Linked DNA regions of Homo sapiens. The protein of the gene in region 1 purifies or fractionates together with the protein of each later gene. This does not show direct contact. Each region holds a gene or a part of one and is shown on either strand. Other genes may lie near its edges.

The links.
Region 2: the proteins of REG1B (region 1) and NAA25 purify together in Homo sapiens (affinity purification with mass spectrometry; one large-scale study listed by BioGRID and IntAct). This does not show direct contact.

What each region holds. Positions count from the first base shown.
Region 1 is NC_000002.12:79,085,194-79,089,349, forward strand, and holds the start of REG1B (lithostathine-1-beta precursor), read right to left. Parts: upstream 2,801-4,156; 5' UTR 2,766-2,800; intron 2,466-2,765; 5' UTR 2,420-2,465; coding exon 2,356-2,419; intron 1,738-2,355; coding exon 1,619-1,737; intron 1,312-1,618; coding exon 1,174-1,311; intron 411-1,173; coding exon 299-410; intron 91-298; coding exon 23-90; 3' UTR 1-22. UniProt on the Homo sapiens protein: Might act as an inhibitor of spontaneous calcium carbonate precipitation. May be associated with neuronal sprouting in brain, and with brain and pancreas regeneration.
Region 2 is NC_000012.12:112,074,284-112,077,783, forward strand, and holds part of NAA25 (N-alpha-acetyltransferase 25, NatB auxiliary subunit), read right to left. Parts: intron 1,507-3,500; coding exon 1,395-1,506; intron 482-1,394; coding exon 392-481; intron 1-391. UniProt on the Homo sapiens protein: Non-catalytic subunit of the NatB complex which catalyzes acetylation of the N-terminal methionine residues of peptides beginning with Met-Asp, Met-Glu, Met-Asn and Met-Gln. May play a role in normal cell-cycle progression.

The sequences.
Region 1 (4,156 bases):
GACATCCATTTTTCAGCTTCCTCTAGTTTTTGAACTTGCAAACAAAGGAGAACTTCTTCTCACAAGATTCATCCTTCCATTTCTTGAATCCTATGGTACAATGAGAAGTGTCAGACATAGAGGATCAGAAGGAGTGTAGCCCCTCCTCAACCTAGGACTCAGAACAAAAAACTAGAGGAAATACTTCTTTATTTTCCAGATAAGGAGCTTACCTTTCCTCTATCCCAGTCCCCATGTTCATCCCCAGAGATAAGTGGGAAGGAAATGGCAACAGGTGGATAGATTGTCTGCCTCTCACCTGAGCATGAAGTCAGGCTTGCACAGTAGCCAGCATTAGCACTGCTCGGGGATCCAGTGTCCCAGGACTTGTAGGAGACCAGGGACCCACTACTCCAGTGCCAGCGGCGGTTCTAGATGGAGAAGGGCCAGAACAGGGGCCATGGTCACTCAAAAATCAATAGAATAACCAGGCCTGTGTGCACACTCAGAAACAGGCCAAGTTATAGCAGAAAGAATAAACATTGTTGTCACCATGAATATCATATCATTTCCTCTGCTTTTGCTCTAAGCTTCTCCTTCTCTAGAATGTCCGAATTCCTCCTCCTCTTCCAGCAAATAATAAGTGTTCAGAATTTGATACAGAGACCCATAAAAGCCCATTAAAGAGAGTGGTTTCTGATTTTTTTCCTGAATCTCAGAACTCTCATATCCAGCATAACATTGGCTGTAGAGTAGTCGTTGATATATTATTTAGTTTATAGTGTTAAACTAAATAATATACTGTACAGTTTTATACACTTGTATAAAATGTATAACAAATGCCAGCAGTAGATTCTCCTCCACTACTCATTTTCTATATAGTCTACAGAGGGACCTCTTCCAAGACAGACAATAGCAAAATAGGGAAAAAGTTGTACATAAAGATGCATTTCTAGAAGTAGACACAATGAGTGGGTGCATGAATTCCCAGAGCCCAGAAAATTCAGCCTTCAGCTCATGTCTCTAACTACCTACACTGAACTTCACAACTCATACATTATAGGATCTATAAAGAGGTTGCTTTTATTTAAACAAACAAAAAGATAAAAGTTGGTGATTGCGGTGCCAGACCTTAAACGTCCCTCTTACCTCTCAAAAATGTTTATAAGGAGATAGAGGTGGCTGCAGACTGACCTTTTTTGGGTCATGGAGGCCAATCCAGACATTGCTGTCATCAGTGCTACTCTCCTTAATCAGTGAGGCCACGAAGGCACCCTCCGCCTGGGTGAGCACAGACACCAGGTTGCCTGAATTCATGTTCTGGCAATAGAGCTGTTGGAGAAGAAAATGGAGCACTCAGTGGAGAAGGAAGGTGTGAGGGATATACTGAGACCTTCCAGAGGATGTAACAGAAAAAGGACAGCACAGAAATGTCCCTGATGATGCTGTCACTGACCACCAGCATCTCTGTGCTGGGAATGTGTCAAATGATGGGATAAAGTAGATTGGGAAGTTTGGGACCAGTGGTGGAATAGGGAAGGGATCAATCTTATCTCATTGCAGCCACAGAACACACTGCAAATTAGCAGCTGCCTCTACCTTCATAAGCCTCCCTTCCCCTGCTGCTCTCCTCACTCACATCTGCATCAACCCAGGTCTCAGGGTCTTCATTAAAGTAGTAGCAGTAGGAGCGATAGGCATTGGTGCCTTCTGGGCAGCTGATTCGGGGATTAGGCAGCTCTGTCTGGGACTCCTGGCCTGGGGAAAAAAAAAAGGAGATAATTAAGAAAGAATCGCAGGGCAAGGAAAAGGCTGGAAGGTGAATTAGGGGCTTCTTGGTGTCCTTTATAAGAACATATGGATACAGTGAATACTGGGGCGATTGCTCACTTCTGCCCTCCTGCATCCTATCTCTTTTCTCTCTAGTTTCCTCTGCTCAAGACAAGAGCTCACAATGAATAGGCTAAATAAATGAGTCCTCGTTTTCCTTTAATTCTGAGGCTGAGGCTTCTGCCTTTAAAGACCCAGGCTTCCTCCTTTCTCAAGTTTCTCTCGGTTTCCCTGCACACGTTTGCCTTAGCTCTCCATCCTAGCAATGACTACATAAAAACATCCCCCAAACTGCCATCGCATATAGATTCAATCAGATAAACTCAACCACAATGGTCACCTATAAGTGGTCCTATTAAATTCTGTCTCAAACCCATGAATGAGGTGAGGGTGTTTTTGAATGGGATAAAATCAGCCATAATGATCACTGAACAACATAAAAAAACCCTGATGTTGACTCTGCTTTTTTTCAAGTGAACCTTATACATGAGGATGGAGGGAAGAATTCAGAGTTGGGGTTGTGGGAAGTGTGGGGGAAAATCTCACCTTGGCTCAGAGACAGGAACATCAGGGAGGAGATCAGCATGAAGAACGAGTTGGTCTGAGCCATGCTTAGCGGCAGTGAATCTCTTGCTTAAGGAGCAAATCAGCAATCTCTGTAGGAGAACACAGGGAAGAGGGTTTGAAGAAGAGAGCAGAGCACCTGTTATCTTTCTAACATCCTCTCCTCTCTGAATTCCTGTGAGCCGAAAGGTCCACTGAGATAGCTACACTCCCAGATATTTCTCTTTTGGTTTGGGGATAACAGAGGCCAAATTACCCGAAATCAGCTTTGGTCTTGCTTAAGTTTCATTACTACTGGGATCTTTTATTCAGAAAATCACCCTGTATCTACCTCAAAATGAAAAGAGAAAATCCCACGTTAGACATGCTCTTCTCCTGTAATGCCCCTTTACCTGTTGGTAAGTGCCTTGTCCACTTGAGGTGGCTTGTCAGGTCAGACAGAGTAGGAGCTTTATATCAGGGTCTGAGAGAGAACTACATGATATAAACAATGGGTGGAGCAAGGAGTAAGGATCAGAAGGCCTACAGAGGGCACTGACAGTAAGAGATTCTGGCATCAGGAATAGCTTATTCCTGGCACACATTAGGAGTGGTCACAAATGACATCAACTTACCACAAACAGGTTGGCAAACTGTCCAAGTTGATGTTGAGCTTTGCTCTTCCTCTGCAGCATCCAGGTGTCCAGTTCCCATGGCCTTTAGCAGTCCTAGAAAGAGCAGAAGAGTAGATTTCTTTGTGCTAGGTAAATGTGGGATGATCCTTTCTTTGGTTTAGGCATGGGTAGGGGTAGGGGAAGAGTCAACTGAGTCCAAATGATTAAGCCCAATTAGCTGGTGGCTTTAAGTCATTTCTCCATTCCCTTTCAGGTTCAGGAACCTCTCAAGACCTACTTCAGAAGGCAAGGTGTATTAGTCCTTTTCATACTGCTATAAAGATAATACCAGAGACTGGGTAACTTAAAAAGGAAAGAGGTTTAATTGACTCATAGTTTAATTGACTCACAGACTTTCCTGAGGATGGGGAGGCCTCAGGAAACTTACAATCATGGAGACGAAGGGGAAGCAAAGCATGTCTTACATGGTGGCAGGTGAGCAAGAGAGAGTGGAGAGGGAAGAGCCCTTTATAAAACCATCAGATCTTGTGAGAATGCACTCACTATCAAGAGAACAGCATGGGGGAAACTACTCCCGTGATCCAATCACCTCCCACTAGGTTCCTCAATCCACACATGGGGATTATGAGGATTACAATTTGAGATGAGATTTGGGTGGGGACACAGAGCCACACCACATCACAAGGTTTAGTAGTTACGTAAATTTAAGCCAGCGTTTCCAGCAAGGTTTCAGCATAAGTAGCTAGCATGATACAGATGTTCTCAAAGTCCAAGCAGGTGGGAACTGCAGGGAGCTGATGCCTAAGTAAGCTCAAAGTAATGGAATATGAAGTTGTTGGTTTGAAGTCAATTGTCTGTTGTTGTGAAGTTACAGATAGTGATGTGAAATTAAAAGCTTACTGAAATTCCCATTAAATACCCATTCAGAATCAGGGAACAAGAGCAAATCTGGAATTTAAAATTCAGTTGAAAAACTAACCAAAATGTTCACAGAAATAAGGATGGCTATATCAATTGGGATAAATGACAAAATAATATATTTTGAAATACTAACAGGAGTTAAATTAAATAAACTAAATATATTTATATAAACATGAGCTCATTTCAAAAGCATATATAAACAAAATGAATTTTAAAAGTTGCAAAAATTTACAAACTAATAATATTTA
Region 2 (3,500 bases), on another chromosome or scaffold:
TGAGCCAAGATCGTGCCATTGCACTCCAGCCTGGGTGACAAGAGCCAAACTCCATCTCAAAAAAAAAAAAAAAAAAAAAAAGGAGAAAAAGAAAAATTATCTTAGCATAAAGATGGAAATAAATCTCACGGAAAGGCACCAAACTATTAACAAGAGTTATTTTTGGAATGGTAGGATAAGTGGAAATTAGCACACCACATATTTTGGCACTAACATGATTTTTAGAATGAACTTGTGTATTTTATACTTTAAAAAATATGAAAAAATGTCTTACTTTGAAAGGAATACTTTATTGAGACAGAAAAAGAGAATTCAATTGGCTTATAATGAAATCCTTTCACTACACTATATTAAAAAGTGCTGTTATAATTCAGGAAAGAAGACAACTTACTGTTCACCTTCAGCAGGAGGACTCCAGGCCTCTTCAATCAGTCGAAAGACAGAATCGAAATAAGTCAGATAGAACTGCCAGTCATCTGAGCTAAAATCAGATTGAATGATGCACACAGGATTAAACCCAAGTTGTGACAGATCTTCCTTAGGAACCATGATATTCAATTTATTTTGTAAGTTATATTTTAGTATGTAGTAGGTTGGCTTACCCCCACCCACTCCATGTTTCCTTTGCAAATCTAAAAGGGCATTTTCAAAGTAATACTACTTTGTATTTGTAAAGAGTAGTAAACTACTCTTTCCTTCAATAAAATGACCAGGTCTAGAAAACTAATATTCATAACAGAAAAGTCCCCACATAAGCACTTCCAAAATAGAGGGAAGGGGAGAGAAGTGTTGTAGCAAAGAATGAAGCCTCTCTCTTTTAGGGGAATACTGAATTTGAGAAATTAATGATTTTCAGTGTTCATTCTTAAGCCCTAACTAGAATTCAGCACCATGGTGGCACAAGTATCTTTTTTTTTTTTTTGAGATGGAGTCTCATTGTTGTCACCCAGGCTGGAGTGCAGTGGCATGATCTCAGCTCACTGCAACCTCTGCCTCCCAGGTTCAAGCGATTCTTGTGCCTCAGCTTCCCGAGGGGCTGGGACTACAGGCACGCACCACCACAACTAGCTAATTTTTGTATTTTCAGTAAAGACAGGGTTTCGCCATGTTGGCCAGGCTGGTCTCAAACTCCTGACCTCAAGTGATCTGCCCACCTTGGCCTCTCAAAGTGCTGGGATCATAGGCATGAGCCACCATGCCCAGCCTACAAGTACCATTATAATACTCTACTGAAAGATGAAGGCTCCTTAAAAACTTTTAGAAACATGCAGGACACAACTACTATAAGAAGACTTTATGCCCAGAAACTTCAAAACACAGACACCAAGAAAATCAATAGTGAGGTCTTAAAGCCTCACTACAGTCAAATGGTACAAAAGAAAGCTTTTACTCACTTTTTTAGTAAGAGGCGCCGGGAAAGGGCATTGCACTCTGGCCACCTGCTCAGCTTCTTGTACATAGCCATGCATTTATTTTCCCGACTCTGAATCTCACTTGTCAACTTCTCTAAAATCAAAAGTTATAAAAGTTGGTAAGCTGGTTTCATTTCTGCTCAATAACCAGAATAGAGTCCAACCACAAGAAGGAAAATGTCACATTTTCTTTTCTTTTTTTTTGAGATGGAGTTTCACTCTTGTCACCCAGGCTGGAGTGCAATGGCACGATCTTGGCTCACTGCAACCTCCACCTCCTGGATTCAAGCGATTCTCCTGTCTCAGCCTCCCAAGTAGCTGGGATTACAGGCATCTGCCACCACGCCTGGCTAATTTTTGTATTTTTAGTAGAGACAGGATTTCACCATGTTGGCCAGGCTGGTCTTAAACTCCTGACCTCAGGTGATCCACCCATCCCAGCCTCCCAGAGTGCTGGGATTACAGCTGTGAGCTACCGGGCCCGGCCTAAATGTCACATTTTCTTATTCACTCTCTTAGAAAATGGGACCACTATTACATACAAACTACTACTATCTTATTAAAGATTATTTTACTTCAAAGAAAAAAGTACATTACTGACAGTAAATTTTTATAATCATTTTCTTTGTAAAAGGATAGGTTTCACAATGTATTGGGTTGAACATCTATTAATAGTACATGGGATATACTTATAAAATCCCAACAGCATCTAGGGACTAGTAAATTTAGTCCATAGACAAGCTGCCCATCCATACAGTTCCAAAACATCAAAGAGGACTGAGCTGACATGAGCTAAGAAAGATGAGATGTTGGAAGAAGACAAAAAAGAGTGGAGAGGAATCAAATCTTTCCAAACAACTGAAAACAAAAAAACTAGGATGATAGTTCTGACCAAATTAGATTTGCCCAACTGTTTAGCAGATTAAGGATACCAAAAATTACATTATGAATTTCCTGTTGAGAATCTAACTTTTTACTATCCATAGAGCTATAATGTAGTTTAAAAAAAAAAAAGGGCCAGGCCTGACAGGTCACACCTGTAGTAATCCCAGCACTTTGGGAGGCTGAAGCAGGCAGATCGCTTGAGACCAGGAGTTCGAGACCAGCCTGGGCAACATATTGAGACCCCACCTCTACAAAAAATATAAAAATTAGCCAGGTTTGATGGCATACGCCTGGAGTCCTAACTATTTAGGAGGCTGTGGTGAGAGGATAACTTAAACCCAGGAGATCAAGGCTGCAGTGAGCTGTGATGATGCCACTGCATTCTAGCCTGGCTAACAGAGCAAGGCCCTGTCTCAAAAACAACAACAACAACAAAAAAAAACAAGAAGTTTCTTGTGAGTAGCCTAAATATCCATCAAAAACTGGTTAAGTAAATTTCTACATTCACACTGTGGAACACTGGACAGTTATTAAAGGAGTGAGGTAGTGAACTTTATCTCTAGGAAATACTATTTAGTTAAAATAATAATAATAATAATAAAATAATGGAGGCCAGGCGTGGTGGCTCACACCTGTAATCCCAGCACTTTGGGAGGCAGAGGCAGGCAGATCACTTGAGGTTAGGAGTTTGAAACCAGCCTGGCCAACATGTTGAAACCCCGTCTCTACTAAAAATACAAAAATTAGCTGGGCGTGGTGGTGTGTGCCTGTAGTCCCAGCTACTCACGAGGCTGAGGCAGGAGAATCACTTGAACCCAGGAGGCAGAGGTTGCAGTGAGCCGAGATCGCACCACTGCACTCTAGCCTGGCCACAGAGTGAGACTCTGTCTCCAAAAAAAAAAAGAAAGAAAGAAATAATGGAGCCCAGTGTGGTGGTGTGTGCCCGTCGTCCTAGCTACTTGGGAGGCTGAGATGGGAGAATCACTTGAGCCCAGGAGTTCAAGTCCAGCCTGGGCAAAACAGTGAGACCTCATCTCTTTAAAATAAATAAATAAATAATAAAAATAAAGTATGGGTATAAGAGTATGCACAGCAGAGGTCACAAACTCAAATGCCTTCATAAGACAGACATACAAATAAAGAAGGAATGTTTGCGGTATCTACAGAGTACAAATCCTGACTAGAGGGGCATTAATTAATTTA